Linked DNA regions of Homo sapiens: region 2 is linked to region 1. A link means that fine-mapping ties the variant in region 1 to the expression of a gene that starts in the linked region. Tissue or cell type: stomach. Region 1 holds a variant in brackets; the other region holds the start of a gene. All regions are shown on one strand. Distances are from middle to middle.

Region 1 (8,185 bases):
TGAGACAGGGTCTCTGTCATCCAGGCTGGAGTGCAGTGGCGTGATCACGGCTCACTGCAGCCTCAACCTGCCAGGCTCAAGCAGTCCTCCCACCTCAGCCTCCGGAGTAGCTGGTACTACAGGTGCACACCACCACGCCCAGCTAATTTTTTGTAGTTTTTTGTAGAGATGGGGTTTCACCATGTTGCCAGGCTGGCCTTGAGCTCCCGGGCTTCAGTGATCCACCTGCCTTGGCCTCTCAAAGTGCTGAACTTATAGGTGTGAGCCACTGCACACGGCCTTGTGTATAATTTTTTTAAAAGCACAATCTTTGCAGCTAGATTTTTGTCCTATTTTGAGAAACTGAAGTTAAAAGATATAAAAAATTATGGCTTTATTAGAGAACTATACTTTAATTAGTAATTTGTAACAGGATTTGCTGTAGGTGGTTTTAAATACCAAACTTCTGGAACGGATTTTAAGTGCAATTTAGTTTTTAAAAGTGTTGATTTATGGTCAAGACACTTATGTAAGCCAAAGACACCCAATGCGTAAGCTAAGTTTCTCAAAGTGTATTCTGAAGGCAAGCTGATGAAAAGTCACCTGGAGTTCTCGTAAAATGCAGGTTCCTGGGCCATGCTACTCAACCAGAACCTTTGGGAGTGTGGGTTCCTGAAGATGTGTTGTAAACAAGCACTCTAGGGGACTTGGTTTCTCACTAAAGTTTGAGGACCATTGACAAAGGCATTATCTTACCTGTTAGAGAAAGGGGACAGGTGGAGCAAGGAATAGTATGATTTTTCTTTTCAGTTCCTCAGATGTACCTAAGATGCAGATGATAGGGTGCAACCTTGTCATAAGCCAATTAATGTAATGCATATTAATTACAACTATTGTATAATTAATGTAAAGCTCAGTCTTCTATAAGGTGATTCAAGTATATAGATATCAGATGTGGGGCATTTTCTCTTAGTCCTTCTATAATCTCCCCCCAAACAATCAAGTGTTTGCCAAGGGCCTATCTTGTAACCAACGCTTTCTGTTCCTCTCTACTGGTACAGTGTGAGAAGGGACAGTGATGCTGACCCTACTTAGTGACTTGGCATTTTGGAATTTGTTCATCCTACTTGGTAGCAGGAAAGTTTCACCGCATCACCATTTGTAGTCCTCCTAAAGTTTTGGAGGTGAGCAAGGGGAAGTAGCAATATGGAGTCAGTCAATCCCAGTGCCCTCTTACACCATCCTTGCCAAGAATCCAGACTTGGAAAACAGAGAGATTATTTTATCACAGCAAGTGATAAATACGGCTTTTGCTTCTGAATAAAGCAGAAACTGACAAATATATTCATTTGAAATAGTCTATGTGAGCTCATGCCTGTAATTCTAGCATTTTGGGAGGCTGAAGCAGGAGGATCTGTTGAGCCCAGGAGTTCAAGACCAGCCTGGGCAATGTAGTGAGATCTCATCTCTACAAAAAGTTAAAAAAGAAAGAAAGAAAGAAAAAAGAAGTTAGCTGGGTGTGGTGATGTGTGCCTGTAGTTCCAGCTACTTGGAAGGATAAAGTGGAAGAATTGCCTGAGCCCAGGAGGTCAAGGCTGCAGTGAACCATGACTGTGCCGCTGCACTCCCACCCAGGTGACAGAGCAAGTCCCTGTCTCCACAAAAAAAAAAAAAAAAAAAGATTTATGATAAGTTATTAGTTTTTAGCCTGCTTTTTAAAAATTCAGGAATAGATTATGGCCGTCATACTATGTAAATATATACACATCTACTTTATCCTTTCCACACATGCATGATATCTTTCACAAGGATGTATTATCATTTATTTAATCAGTTCCCTATTGTCCAACATTTAGGCTATTTCTGGTATTTTGTAATTCTAATGTTGAAGTGAACATCTTTTAAATATATCTTTGCATATTTGTGTGAGTTTTTCTATAAGATAAATTTGCTGAGTTAAAGGGAATATGTATCTAAAATTATGGTAGCTATTTATTTATTCAACATTTACTAAGTATGTACTATATGATAGGGTTTGTGCTTGTTTATGACTTAGTGTTGAGTTTACAACAGCCAACAAAACAGACAAGAGCCCTGCTCTCATGGAGGCTACATTTTATTGCCAAATTACAACAAATGGTATTTGGTTAATTGACTAGCTATTTGGAAAAACATACCTTTACTATCCTCCTCACATCATACACAAAAACCAATTGCAATTTAATAGACATGAAAAGCAAAACTATGCAATAATTAAATTACAGGAGAATATTTTTTAAACCTTGGAATAGAAACACAAAACGCAGAAGAATTGATAGATATGAGTAGATTAAAAATTAAAACTTTCAAATGATGTAAGATACAAGATACAATGTTAAAAGACAAATAGCAGAGCAGAAGAAAATTTGTAATATTTATAGCAGATAATAGACTAATGGACATAATGTGTAAAAAGTAACTACAAATTAGATATCGACAAGCCCAAGAGAAGAATAAAAAGAAAATTGTAAACATGCATTTCTCAGAAGAAGAAATGCAAATGACCAGTAGATATACTGAAAGTTGCTAAATCTTGCTAATGATCAGAGAAATGCAAACTAACCCAACAGGTTGAATTTTCATTTATTAGACTGACAGAATTAAAAAGGCAAGGGCATACACAATTGCTCGCAAATTCTGCTGGTGGGAGTCTAAATCGTCAACGGGCTGGAGCAATTTGGAGGTGTTTCTAATTGTGCATGGTTTTTTGACCCAGTAATATTACTTCTAGGAACTGGTCTTTCAGAAACCCAAAGATTTATATACAAGGATATTCATGGCGTGTTGTTTGTAGCAGGAAAAACATGGAAACAATGTAGAAATTCATTCTTAGGAGAATGAGGAATAAATATAGTATCTCATACCACAGACCATGATAAGATCCCTGAAAACAATGAAGTAGATCTGTTTGTACTTGCTTGAAAAGATCTCCATGGTACACTGTTAAATGGAAAAAGCAAGTCACAGAGTAATACATGTACTATAATAGCATTTACATGAAAAGGACAACAGCCAAGGGGTGTGTGTGTGTGTGTGTGTGTGTGTGTGTGTGTGTGTGTGTGTGTCTGTACATGCTGGGGAGAGAGTAAGATGGAGTCAGGAGGGACAGGGGTGGGAAAGTGGGGAGACTTGCAATCAGTACATTTTTAAAAAGTGATACAAAGCTGCTCCTGTTTTTCATCCTAAAGACATCAAATTATGAACATTCATCAAAGTTCTCTTCTTTTTCAGGTGCAGCCACGATGTATACAAGATACAAAATAGTACAGAAGCAAAATCAAACCTGCTATTTCAGCACTCCTGTTTTTAACTTGGTGTCTTTAGTGCTTGGATTGGTGGGATGTTTCGGAATGGGCATTGTCGCCAATTTTCAGGTATAATCTGGAGCTTTTTCAGTTATGAGGAGTGGTGGAGTGTATGTGTCTGAAGAGAGCAGCAGAAATGCAAGAGGCACACTTATGCCATTATAGCCATTAAATGCTTGATGAGTTTACAATAAGTGGGTTAGTTTGCTTTTTAGAAACCTTTAACATTTGGAAATCAGGGCCAGGTGTGGTGGCTCACACCTGTAATCCCAGCACTTTGGGAAACTGAGGTGGATCATGAGACCAGGAGTTCAAGACCAGTCTGGCCAACATGGTGAAGCCTCATTTCTACTAAAAATACAAAATTAGCCAGGTGTGGCGTCACATGCCTGTAATCCCAGCTACTCAGGAAGCTGAGGCAGGAGAATTGTTTGAACCTGGAAGGTGGAGGTTGCAGTGAGCCGAGATTGTGCCACTGCACTTGACAGAGCGAGACTCTATCTCAAAAAAAAAAAAAAAAAGCATTTGAAAGTGAGTTCTGATACTTGGGAGAAATGGGGTGCACATTTGCATGATTATGAGAGTGTGTGATTCAGAGGAGGCCTTGGGCTTTGCATTGCTCCATGTTGTCATTGATGTGGTTTGATGTGTTGGGAGAGCTACTTCAGCTACTGTGATGATTTTGTTAAGA[G/A]TGTGAAAATATTTGTATGTGTTTACCAATTCTACCATTTAAACCTCTGGTATTCAAAGAGGAGGCTCCCGGTGACATTTCTTTATATTTTTATGACAGTATGCATTTTGTTTTTCATAACAACAAACATTTATTGAAATTTTCCTGTGACACATGTTTAAGAAAATATTCCATATTTTAACCATACAATTATAATAAAAGCCTTGTAAGATAGGCACTATTATTTTCCCCATTTATCAATGGTAAAATGGAGGCCTAGAGAGGTTAATACTTGCCTAAGATCAGTTGAATAATGCATGGCAGAGGCGAGCTTTGAATTGAAGTCATCTTCCTAGAGCCTGTGAGAGCTATCCTCAATGCTAACATGAAGATATATCTGTGACAAAAAAACCAAGTACACGATGCATAGTTCTACCATCAGGATGCACACACACACAAAATTTAAAAAGGAAGACCTAGAGTGGTATAATTTGTCTAGTACAGTGTGGTTATGGTTTAATGGGGGCTAGTATAGATATATCACTTTATCCTCTGACTAACCACATCATGAGAGATACAGATGTCAGTTTTTAAACCATTTAAGGGCTGACTTTAAGAAGAAAACTTAGATGGTTAAATAATTTCAACTTTTGGTTCCCCTTAAGTCTTCAATGATGTGATTAAATCCACAAAAACCAGAAATAGAATCTTAACTTCCCAAGGAGCAAAGTGTTTGACTTGTCATTGTTCCGATAACTGTATCTTTACAACTTCCTTGTTTGGTATCCTGTAATTCATTTTCGTCATATCAGGAGCAAACCAACTTGAGCTAACTCAAGATGATTTTGAGATGTGTGGGCAAGAGAGAGTGTGACTGCCTCTTTTTTTTTTTTCTTTTTTTGTAGAGACAGAGTCTTGCTCTGTCGCCCAGGCTAGAGTGTAGTGGCGCGATCTCGGTTCACTGCAACCTCCGCCCCGGGTTCAAGTGATTCTCATGCCTCAGCCTCCCGAGTAGCTGGGATTACAAGCACCCACCACCATGTCCAGCTAATTTTTGTATTTTTAGTAGAGATAGGGTTTCCCCATGTTGGCCAGGCTGGTCTTGAACTCAAGTGATCTGCCTGCCTTGGCCTCCCAAAGTGCTGGGATTACAGGCATGAGCCACCGTGCCCAGCCATGGTGATTTTTCTTGAGTTGCAATAAATCACATTTTTGAGAATTTCACAGATAATCTTTTTCCCAAATGGGTGGGTGAGATGGCTACTTTTTGGTGTGTCCTCACTAACTTCTGTCAATACTTTATTTTCCCTCAGAAAGTTTTCTTTTTGAAATTCTGTCATTTGTGGCAACATGGATGAACCTGGAGGACCTTATGCTAAGTGAAATAAGCCAGTCACAGAGGGACAAATACCGAATGCTGTCACTTATATGTGGAATCTAAGAAAATCAAACTTACAGGAGAGAGTAGAATGGTGTTACAGGAGTGAAGAGGAAGATGAGGAGCGGGGAGGTATTGGTCAAAGGGTACCAAGTTTCAGTTAGACTGAATTAATAATTCTGGAGATCTATTACTGCACAGTATGGTGACTATAGTTAATAATAGTGTATTGTATATTTCAAAATTGCTAAAACAGTAGATTTTAAATGTTCTCATCACAAAAAAAATGAATAAGTATGTGAGGTGATTGATATGTTAATTACCTTGATTTAATCATTCCACAGTGTAAACATACATCAAAACATCTACAGCCAGGTGTGGTGGCTCATACCTGTAATCCCAGCACTTAGGGAAGCCAAGGCAGGAGGAATGCTTTAGCCCAGGAGTTTGAGACTAGTCTGGGCAACATAGGGCAACACAGGGAGACCGTGCCTCTGGAAACACACACACACATACACACACACACACACACACACACACACACACACACCCCTATAAGCCTCATAAATATGAACAATTATTATTATTTTTTGAGACAGAGTCTCTCTCTGTTGCCCAGGCTGCAGTGCAGTGGCGCGATCTTGGCTCACTGCAACCTCCGCCTCTCAGGTTCAAGCAATTATCCCTGCTTCAGCCTCCCGAGCAGATGGTATTACAGGCACCTGGCACCATGCCCAGCTGATTTTTGTATTTTTTTTTAGTAGAGATGGCGTTTCGCCATGTTGGCCAGGCATGTCTTGAACTCCTGACCTCAGGTGATCCTCCCACCTCGGCCTCCTGAAGTGCTGAGAGGTGTGAGCCATCGTGCCCAGCCTATAAACAATTATTATTTGTCAATTAAAAATAAAAACTTTTAAAGTTTCCTTTTTAGAAAAGAAACTTTCCAAGGTTTAACTCTGTCAGTATTCACATATTCTTTTTTTTTTTTTGAAGCTGAGTGATAGAGCTTTAGGGGTTTTTTTTTTTTTTTTTTTTTTTTTTTTTTTTGAGACAGAGTCTTGCTCTGTCACCCAGGCTGGAGTGCAGTGGCGCAATCTCGGCTCACTACAAGCTCTGCCTCCCGAGTTCACGCCATTCTCCTGCCTCAGCCTCCCAAGTAGCTGGGACTACAGGCGCCCGCCACCACGCCCGGCTAATTTTTTGTATTTTTAGTAGAGATGGGGTTTCACCACATTAGCCAGGATGGTCTTGATCTCCTGACCTCGTGATCCACCTGCCTCGGCCTCCCAAAGTGCTGGGATTACAGGCGTGAGCCACCGCGCCTGGCTGATAGAGCTTTATTAAACTATTCTCTCTCTCTCTCCCTCTCTGTTGTTATTACCTTTTAAATTACCAAGAGAGTTTCTAAAAAGCAATCCAGAAAGAGTGCCGGGTTTTAACTTTATCGAAAATTCATGTCTGATCTAAACATCATTTCCCTGCTTTTTTGATTGATTGGTTGAGAAAGGGTCTCGCTCCTTCACCTAAGCTGGAATGCAATAGCACAATCATAGCTCACTGTAACCTTGAACGCTTAGACTAAGCCTTGAACTCCTCCTGTCTCAGTCTCTTGAGTAGCTGAGACTATGGGTGCATCACCATGCCCAGCTAATTCTTATTTTCACTTTTGTAGAGATGGGGTCTTGCTATGTTTCTGAGGCTGTTCTTCAACTCCTGGCCTCATGTGATCCTCCCATCTCCACCTCCCAAAATGTTGGGATTACAAACACAAGCCACCATACCCTGTCGTATTTTATTTTTCATATATAACTTCCCTGAATCTATATGCCTATGTTAGGAATCTTATTTATTTATTTATTTGTATTTGTATTTTTACCTTTATTTTTTGAGACAGGGTCTTGATCTGTTGCTCAGGCTGGAGTGCAGTGGTGTGATCATGGCTCACTGCAATCTCTGCCTTGTGAGCTCAAGCAGTCCTCCCACCTCAGCCTCCTGAGTAGCTAAAACTACAGGTTCATGCCATCATGCCCAGCAAATTTTTGTAGTTTTTGCAGAGACAGTGTTTCACCACATTGCCCAGGTTGGTCTTGAACTCCTGAGCTCAAGTGATACACCTGCCTTGGCCTCCCAAAGTGATGAGTTTACAGACATAAGCCACTGTGCCCAGTCTTTTATTTATTTTTATTTTATTTTTTGAGACAAGGTCTCACTCTGTTGCCCAGACTAGAGTGCAGTGGTGCTATCATAGCTCACTGCAGCCTTGGTCTCCCAAGCTCAAGTGATTCTCCCACCTCAGCCTCCGAAGTAGCTGGGACTACAGGCACACACCATCATGCCCATCTGATTTTATTTATTTATTTATTTATTTATTTATGTATTTATTTATTTTTTGAGATGGAGTCTCGCTCTGTCTCCCAGACTGTATGTAGTTCAGTGGCACAATCTCGGCTTACTGCAGTCTCCACCTCCTGGGGTCCAGTAATTCTCCTGCCTCAGTCTCCCTGGTAGCTGGGATTACAGGCACGCGCCACCACGCCTGGCTAGTTTTTGTATTTTTAGTAGATACGCGGTTTCACCACGTTGGCGAGGCTGGTCTCAAAGTCCTGACCTTGTAATCCACCTGCCTCAGCCTCCCAAAGTGCTGGGATTACAGGCGTGAGCCACAGTACCTGGCCCATGCAAGGTATCTTAGGTATACAGAAACTATATGATGTATTGCAGAGTCAGTGCAGTCATATTTGAATATAACACCAATCATGTAATCAATTTCTCCCCTTATTTCTAGGTTTGATACTAGGAAATACATTTCCTTAG
Region 2 (8,185 bases), 25 kb before region 1:
GGGTGGTGGCACATGCCTGTAATCACAGCTGCTTGGGAGGCTGAGGCAGGAAAATCGCTTGGACCCAGGAGGTGGAGGTTGCAGCGAGCAGAGATCGTGCCACTGCACTCCAGCCTGCATGATGGGAGCGAGACTCCACCTCAAAACAACAACAACAACAACAACAATAACAACAAATTAGCTGGGCATGGTGGTGCATGCCTGTAGTCCCAGCTACTTGGCAGGCTGAGGAACAAGAATTGCTTGAACCCGGGAGGCAGAGGTTGCAGTGAGCCAAGATCGCACTACTGCACTCCAGCATGGGTGACACAGTGAGACTCTCTAAAAAAAAAAAAAAAGTAAAAAAGAAGCCAGAACTTTTACATTTATAGTGTATTTATTTTAAATATATATGTATACATACTCTTTTTTTTACACTCATTTACATATTTTTATTTGGAAATGTTTATATCAGTACAAGGAAACAATTTTGGAGACACTGGATGTCATTAGTTTATTATAAAAGAAAAATATGGAAATTATTTACATGATGAAAGATTTCAGAACTTCAGTAGAATGGGCAGCTTCACGTTGATGCCATTTCAATAGTGACTTATTTCAGTCTACGTACTTTCTAAGAATGTCACCATCTCTAAATAGGAAATAATCCTTGTCATCTAGAACTACTTTGGTGCCTCCATATTCTGGGAGAAGAACTTTATCTCCAACTTTCACGCTAACTGGTTGAATCTCTCTACCCTTTCCATAGAACCCCATCCAACAGCGACTACTCTTGCTTGCAATAATTTTCCTTGAGATTTTTCTGGAAGCATAATGCCTCCTTTGGTTACAGTTTCAGCAGCACGCCTTTCAACCAAAACTCGGTCAAGGAGTGGAAGAAACTTTCTAAACGCTTGGCTTGCCATGATTCCCTCCACCTCAGACTCGTACTCTGCTCGCGTGTATACATACTCATCTTAAGTGACAAATTCTTGTTAGCTCTATAGTCAGACAACTCTTTTTTTATTTGAGACTGAGTTTTGCTCTTTGTTGCCCAGGCTGGAGTGCAGTGGTATGATCTCGGCTCACTGCAACCTCCGCCTCCCGGGCTCAAGCGATTCTCCTGCCTCAGCCTCCCGAGTAGCTGGGATTACAGGGGCCCACCACTACACCCGGCTGATTTTTGTATTTTTAGTAGAGATGAGGTTTCACCATGTTGGCTGGGCTGGTCTCGAACTCCTGACCTCAGGTGATCCGCCCGCCTTGGCCTCCCAAAGTGCTGGGATTACAGGCGTGAGCCACCATGCCCGGCCTCAGATTTTTTTTTTTTTTTTTTTTTTTTTTTTTTTTTTTTTGAGACAGAGTCTTGCTCTGTCGTCCAGTCTGGAGTGCAGTTGCGCGATCTCGGCTCACTGCAAGCTCCGCCTCCCGGGTTCACGCCATTTTCCTGCCTCAGCCTCCTGAGTAGCTGGGACTATATGCGCCCGCCACCACGCCCGGCCAATTTTGTTTTTGTATTTTTAGTAGAGACGCGGTTTCACCGTGTTAGCCAGGATGGTCTTGATCTCCAGACCTCGTGATCCGCCAGCCTCGGCCTTCCAAAGTGCTGGGATTAGAGGTGTGAGCCACCGCGCCAGGCCAGACAATTCTTATATCTGTGTTAAAAGTGATTAGCCAATTGAATTGCTTAATTAAGGAAATTACATAAGCAGCAGAAGGGTAAGATGATCAGGTGAATTCCCTTTGATATTATAATTTCTTTGCTTAGGGAGAGTTTTTTTTTTTAGTCTGATGAATCAGTAGTAGGGCACGAAAGGAAAAAAGGGAAGGAATAGAGTGATTTTCAGAACACAGAAACCTAGGTAGAGATTACAATGAAACCATGGTTGCTAACTTTTGTGATTTTTATTTTTTATTTTTAAAATTTATTTATTTATTTAGAGACATAGTCTCTATCTGTTGACCAGGCTGGAGTGCAATGTCACCGTCTCTGCTCACTGCAACCTCTGCCTCCTGGGTTCAAGCAGTTCTCCTGCCTCAGCCTCCTGAGTAGCTGGGATTACAGGTGCCCGCCACCATGCCTGGCTAATTTTTGTATTTTTTAGCATTGACGGGGTTTCACCATGTTGGCCAGGCTGGTCTTAAACTCCTGACCTCATGGTCCACTGGCCTCCACCTCTCAAAGTGCTGGAATTACAGGCGTGAGCCACTGTGCCTGGCCATTTTTTTTTTTTTAAGACAGGGTCTCGCTCTATTACCCAGGCTGGAGTGCAGTGGCTGCAATCTCAGCTCAACTGCAATCTCTGCCTCCCAGGTTCAAGCGATTCTCATGCCTTAGCTTCACGAGTAGCTGGGATTACAGGCGCGCACCACCATGCCCAGCTAATTTTTGTATTTTCAGTAGAGACAGGGCTTCATCATATTGGCCAGGCTGGTCTCGAACTCCTGACCTCAGGTCATGTGCCTGCCTCAACCTCCTAAAGTGCTGGGATTACATTGCACCTGACCATTTTTAAATTTTTATTTGTTTTTGAAATAGAGTCTCGATCTGTGATCCAGGCTGGAGTTCAGTGGTGTGATCATAGCTCACTGCAGCCTCAAACTCCGGGCTCAAGTGAGCCTCCCACGTAAGCCTCTCATGTAGCTGGAACCACAGGTTATGCAACACCACACCCAGCTAATTTTTAAATTTTTTGTAGATATGGTTGCGGGTCTCACTATATTGTCCAGGCTTCGGCCTCCCAAAGCGCCGGGATTACAGAACTGTGAGCTACCATGCCTGGCCAGCTTTTGTGGTTTTTAAAAAGCCTTATTTTAAATTTTCTATTTTGTTTTGTATGGCGGGCACTCACTCCACGGCCACAGTGATCTCTTGAAATACTAGTCTGCCCATGTTCTTACTTTCTCCTTAATACCAAAAATAATCCAAGATTCTCAGCAGGACTCTGGTGACTTTGCCTCTTTGTTTCTCTCTCCATTTGCTGCCTCACACTTATTTAAGTGCTTTCATAGTCCCAGGGAAGCAAGCTCTGTGTATGCATTTCCTCCAGTTGTTTTCTGGGCCTGGAATGCTAATCTTATTTTTCTTTGCCTGGTTAGTAATTACTTCCTTTTGAAAACTCTGATGTCATCTGTCAGAAAACCTCCGTGGTCCTTCCTCTGAGCCCAGGCCCCTGGCCCTCAGCTCTGGGCATGTCTCTACTTTTTAAAATCCTCTCCTTTCCATTTAATAAACCACATAACATAATTTTGTTTTTATTTATTTATATTTTTGAGACAGAGTCTCGTTCTCTCACCCAGGCTGAAATGCAGTGGTGTGATCTCAGCTCACTGAGAAAACCTCCATTTCCCAGGTTCAAGCGATTCTCCTGCCTCAGCCTCCTGAGTAGCTGGGATTACAGGCGTGAGCCATGATGCCTGACTAATTTTTTGTATTTTTAGTAGAGATGGGGTTTCACCATGTTGGCCAGGCTGGTCTCGAACTCCTGACCTCAGGTGATCCACCCACCTTGGCCTCCCAAAGTGCTAGGATTACAGGCATGAGCCACCACGCCTGGCCTAATTTTGTTATTTTGATCTATGAGTGTCCTCGTCCTGAGGGTACTATTACTATTTCATCTTTGTAGCCTAGCATGGCGCCCATGAAATGTGTTTGTGGCTGAAAGGAACCTATCTTTGGTCACCAATGACCCAACAATTTTGGCCACATATGTTGGGCTCAGACTCCCTAAACTATCAAAATCATGTGCTTATATTATAAGTGCCTCCAGAACACAAATCCCTTTCACAGGGCTTGAAATGTATCAAGTCACTATTAATCATCTTAGGCCAAGGCTCCGAGTCTGGGCTACTCCAGAACCTGGAGGGGAGTTTTTTTTGTTTTTTTTTTGTTTGTTTGTTTTTTGAGACAAGGTCTTGCTCTGTCACCCAGGCCGAGTGAAGTGGTGTGATAAAGGCTCACTGCAGCCTCGACCCCCAAGGCTCAAGTGATCATCCCAACTCAGTCTCCCGAGTAACTGGAACCGGCTTTTTTTCTTTTTCATTTTTTTTTTTTTTTTTTGTAGAAGAGGGGTTTCGCTATGTTACCCAGGCTGATCTCTAGTTCTTGGGTTCAAGCGATCCTCCCAACTCGGCCTCCCAAAGTGGTGGCATTCCAGGGGTGATGGCTTTTGGATGCCTCCCAAAGTGATGGCTATTCACGGCGCCCGGCCTGGGAAATCTTATTTCCAGGAAATATTCTCCAGTTGCGCTCTCCTGGAAAGCAGCACAATGGGCCTCCCGGCTCCGTGGGCGCGCAGTCCCACCCGCCTGCCCCGCACCCCACCCGCGTACTCTCCACCCCACCCGTTCCCACCCTGTCTGGGTTTTCGGGTGTTCACCATTGAGGTGGGAGCCACATCTGCGCCCCGTGACCTGGCGAACCTCATTGAACACTTCTGCCCGACCCCCGCAGCAGCAGCGCGACCGGATGGCATGGGTGTCACCACGCGGTGGCCACTCTCACTGCTGCGAAGCGCCGGCGGCGGGACCTCGGAGGGGGCGCCCTCGGGGTGCGAGGCCCGGCACTCCGGAAATCCCCCGGGAGGGAGGGGTTGGGAGAAATAAATCCTTTTCTCCAGAGTTGCGCAAGAGCCAGCGCGGTAGGGCCAGAGTGGGAAGGCCAGAGCGGGCGTCCCCGCCAGTGACCCCACGCCGCCCGTCCGCGCCCAACCCGGCCTCCGCCGAGTGTCCAAACCAAAAGCGAAAGGAACCCGACCCCGCGTCCCCTCCGGCGGCTCCGTAGTCGCGTCCGCTTGGAGCTCGCCGGGCGCCTCCGACCCTGCCGGGCCGCTTTGTGACTTCACTCGTTTCGCAACAAGCCCGGGCAGCCCGCGCCCCACCCACTCTGGCCCGGCAGCCTCGCCGCCCGCAGCCTCGCTCCGCTCCTCGCGCTTCCCCTCCCTCCGGGGCTGGGCCTGCCCCGGCCGTCGCGGAGCCTCCCCTCCCACCGTCCGTGAGTGTACGCGCCCGGCCGCCGCCTCCAGGCAGCCCGGAGCAACCCGGCGCCCGGCCCCGCTGGGCGCAGCACTCCGTCGGCGGCGGCGGCGGCGCGATGCTGTGCTTCCTGAGGGGAATGGCTTTCGTCCCCTTCCTCTTGGTGACCTGGTCGTCAGCCGCCTTCATTATCTCCTACGTGGTCGCCGTGCTCTCCGGGCACGTCAACCCCTTCCTCCCGTATATCAGGTGAGTGGCAGGGTGGGCGTCAGGGCCCCAGGAGCAGGCACAGGGACCACAGGGAGCGCTGCCGACGGGGAGGGAAGGCGTCCGGACCCAGCTTGGGGCGTCGTGTGGTCAGGCAGAGGTGGGAGCAGGAGGAGAGGTGCTCCCGATAGCCTGGGATGTTTAGGGAGGCAGCGGGTGCGGCGCTGAGCACTTCTGCCTGTACCCGGAGCATGGAACAGGGTGGCAGCAAGGAGAGGTTCAGGATAGATGGTAGAGCTTTCATTCTGGGTATGGGACAGAATCTCAGCAGGACGTTCTTAGGCGATATTGAAACAAGATGGGTTCTGATAGATGACATATATTATACAAGAGGTAGATCCAGGTATATGCTAAACAGCCACTATTTTCACTTCTGCATCCCAACATCCCTTGAAGTGGATGTTTGGGCTTATTATTCCCGCAAGCGAGCGGTGGTGTAAAGTTGATGAAATATCATCAACGTGACACTGATGTCACACTAGTTAATGGTAGGAGCAGAATTCACACCCGGCCATGCAGAAAGCAACACTGTGCTGCCCCCAGGTCTCTGGGAGTCTGGCTTAAATTCTCTGGAGCTGCACCAGACACCTCTGGGCACTGTGACCCCAAAGTCCTCAACTTGTCAACAACTTGTGACATCTTTTGTGTTATTTTACCCATTCACTTTTCCTGTGCTTTGGCCTCTACCTTCCTGAGGGGCACTTCAGTGCCAGGGACAGTGGTCTGATCCTCCTATGTGGGTTCCAGCTCAGTGCCTTTCTCATAGTGGCAGGATTCTTTAAACGTTAGAACCATCCATCCTTATCTAAGTAGTGTGACCCCTCTGGACAGGCATTGGTTGGTGAACGGATGATAAGGTTGGTGACACCCAAGGTTTGTTACTGCTATGATAGAAAATGTAGGGCGTCTTCTTCCCTGCAGCCATTCTGTCTGGTGAGCAATGTTCTGTGTTTTTTTGTTTGTTTGTTTGTTTTTTTCCTTTTTTTGGGGGTGGGGGTGAGGAGTGTGGAGAAAGGGGAAACAAAGATCGAGCAAGAGGGGACTAGCATTTTTTAAAATTTTTTTTATTTTTTTGAGACAGAGTCTTGTTCTGTCGCCCAGGCTGGAGTGCAGTGACACAATCTCGGCTCACCGCAACCTCTGCCTCCCGGGTTCAAGCGATTCTCCTGCCTCAGCCTCCCAAGTAGCTGAGATTACAGGCGTGCACCACCACACCTGGCTTAATTTTTTTGTATTTTTAGTAGAGACAGGGTTTCACTATGTTGGTCAGGCTGGTCTCAAATTCCTGACCTCAAGTGATCCTCTTGCCTTGGCCTCCCAAAATGCTAGGATTACAGGTGTGAGCCAGTGTTCCCAGGGAACCAGCATTTACAAGATGCAGGGAATACAGCAATAGGTAGAATAGTGCAAATTTGCAGTAATGATGGTGGTTTTTGCCTATGAAAGGAGATGTTATGTATATCAAGATGTTCTCATCTGGCCTTTCGGTTTTTTCCATTTATTGTTATTATTTTTTATTTTCAGTAGAGACAAAGTCTCACTATATTGCCCAGGCTGGTCTTAAACTCCTGGGCTCAAGCATTCCCCTTGCTTTGGCCTCCCAGAGTGTTGGGATTACAGGCGTGAGCCACCACGCCTGGCCCTCCCATCTGGTATTATGCTTGGAAGAAACCTAGGCTTGGTTTCTCATGGCACATCTCAGGCCCAAGTGCCATCATCTTGCTTCTGAAGCAGGATAGATCCTTCTAGACTTGTGTAAAAGTAAAGACCTGCTCAGCTGGGCACAGTGGCTCACGCCTGTAATCCCAGCACTTTGGGAGGCCGAGGCTGGCGGATCATGAGGTCAAGAGATCGAGACCATCCTGGCCAACATGGTAAAACCTCATCTCTACTAAAAATACAGAAATTAGCTGGGCGTGGTGGTGCACGCCTGTAGTCCCAGCTACTCGGGAGGCTGAGGCAGAATTGCTTGAACCCGGGAGGCAGAGGTTGCAGTGAGCCGAGACAGAGCTACTGCACTCCAGCCTGGTGACAGAGCGAGACTCCATCTCAGAAAAAAAAAAAAAAGGTAAAGAGCTGCTCTACCTGCAGTGCTGCTTCTTTTGTTTGTTTGTTTGTTTGTTTTTTCAGACAAAGTCTCGCTCTGTTGCCCAGTCTGTGGTGTGGTGGTGGGATCACAGCTCACTGCAGCCTCGACCTCCTGGGCTCCATTGATCCTCCCACCTCAGCCTCCTGAATAGCTGGGGACTGTAGATAGGCATGCACAACCATGCCCAGCTAATTTTTAATTTTTTTTTGTATTTGTAGAGATGGCATCTTGCTGTGTCCTGCAATGCTTCCTTTTTTTTTTTTTTTTTTTTTTTTTTTAAGACAGAGTCTTGCTCTGTCGCCCAGGCTGGAGTGCAATGGTGCAATCTCGGCTCAGTGCAACCTCCACCTCCTGGTTCAAGCAATTCTCCTGACTCAGCCTCCCAAGTAGCTGGGATTACAGGCACCTGCCACCACGCCCAGCTAATATTTTTGTATTTTTAGTAGAGACGGGGTTTCACCATGTTGGCCAGGCTGGTCTCAAGCTCCTGACCTCAGATGATCCACCTGCCTCAGCCTCCTAAAGTGTTGGGATTACAGGCGTGAGCCACCACACCCAGCCTGCAGTGCTTCTTATTGAGAAAACAGTAGTCATGTTTGTCCCAGATCTGAAGGTTGAGGACAGATAATACGTGATATTCATTGGCCAGGCTGTCAAAGGCAGGTTTTGAATGTTCATAGAGGTGTCTGATGTAGTTGTGATTAATATCACTCTAAGGTGAACTTGAAATGGGAGACATTCAGAAATGGGAAAATAAGCTGACAAGGTGAACCACTTATGAGATGCTCAAATCACAGACCCTACAAGGAAGGGGTTTAAAATTTAACAAGGAAGCCTTCAGGAAAAGCAGAATTACAGGAGAAAAAGGCATGCCCC

What was found. PIP is the estimated chance that this variant, and not a neighbour inherited with it, causes the effect.
Region 2: DRAM1 starts here. The variant in region 1 is fine-mapped to the expression of DRAM1 in stomach (GTEx, PIP 0.99).

The regions. Positions count from the first base shown.
Region 1 is chr12:101,898,042-101,906,226 of GRCh38, forward strand. DRAM1 (DNA damage regulated autophagy modulator 1) reads left to right here. Exons shown (of 7, transcript NM_018370.3): 3 at 3,250-3,392. Among named protein-coding and RNA genes, the nearest start is that of DRAM1, 25 kb to the left of the region's middle. RefSeq lists an enhancer at 1,382-1,551. The variant G/A (reference allele first, on the strand shown) is at 4,015.
Region 2 is chr12:101,872,719-101,880,903 of GRCh38, forward strand. DRAM1 (DNA damage regulated autophagy modulator 1) reads left to right here and starts at 4,862. Exons shown (of 7, transcript NM_018370.3): 1 at 4,862-5,202. The coding sequence starts at 5,072. It also overlaps the pseudogene HSPE1P4. RefSeq lists enhancers at 4,266-5,048, 4,839-4,888, 5,049-5,830, 5,469-5,558, 5,699-5,748 and silencers at 4,499-4,658, 4,909-5,248.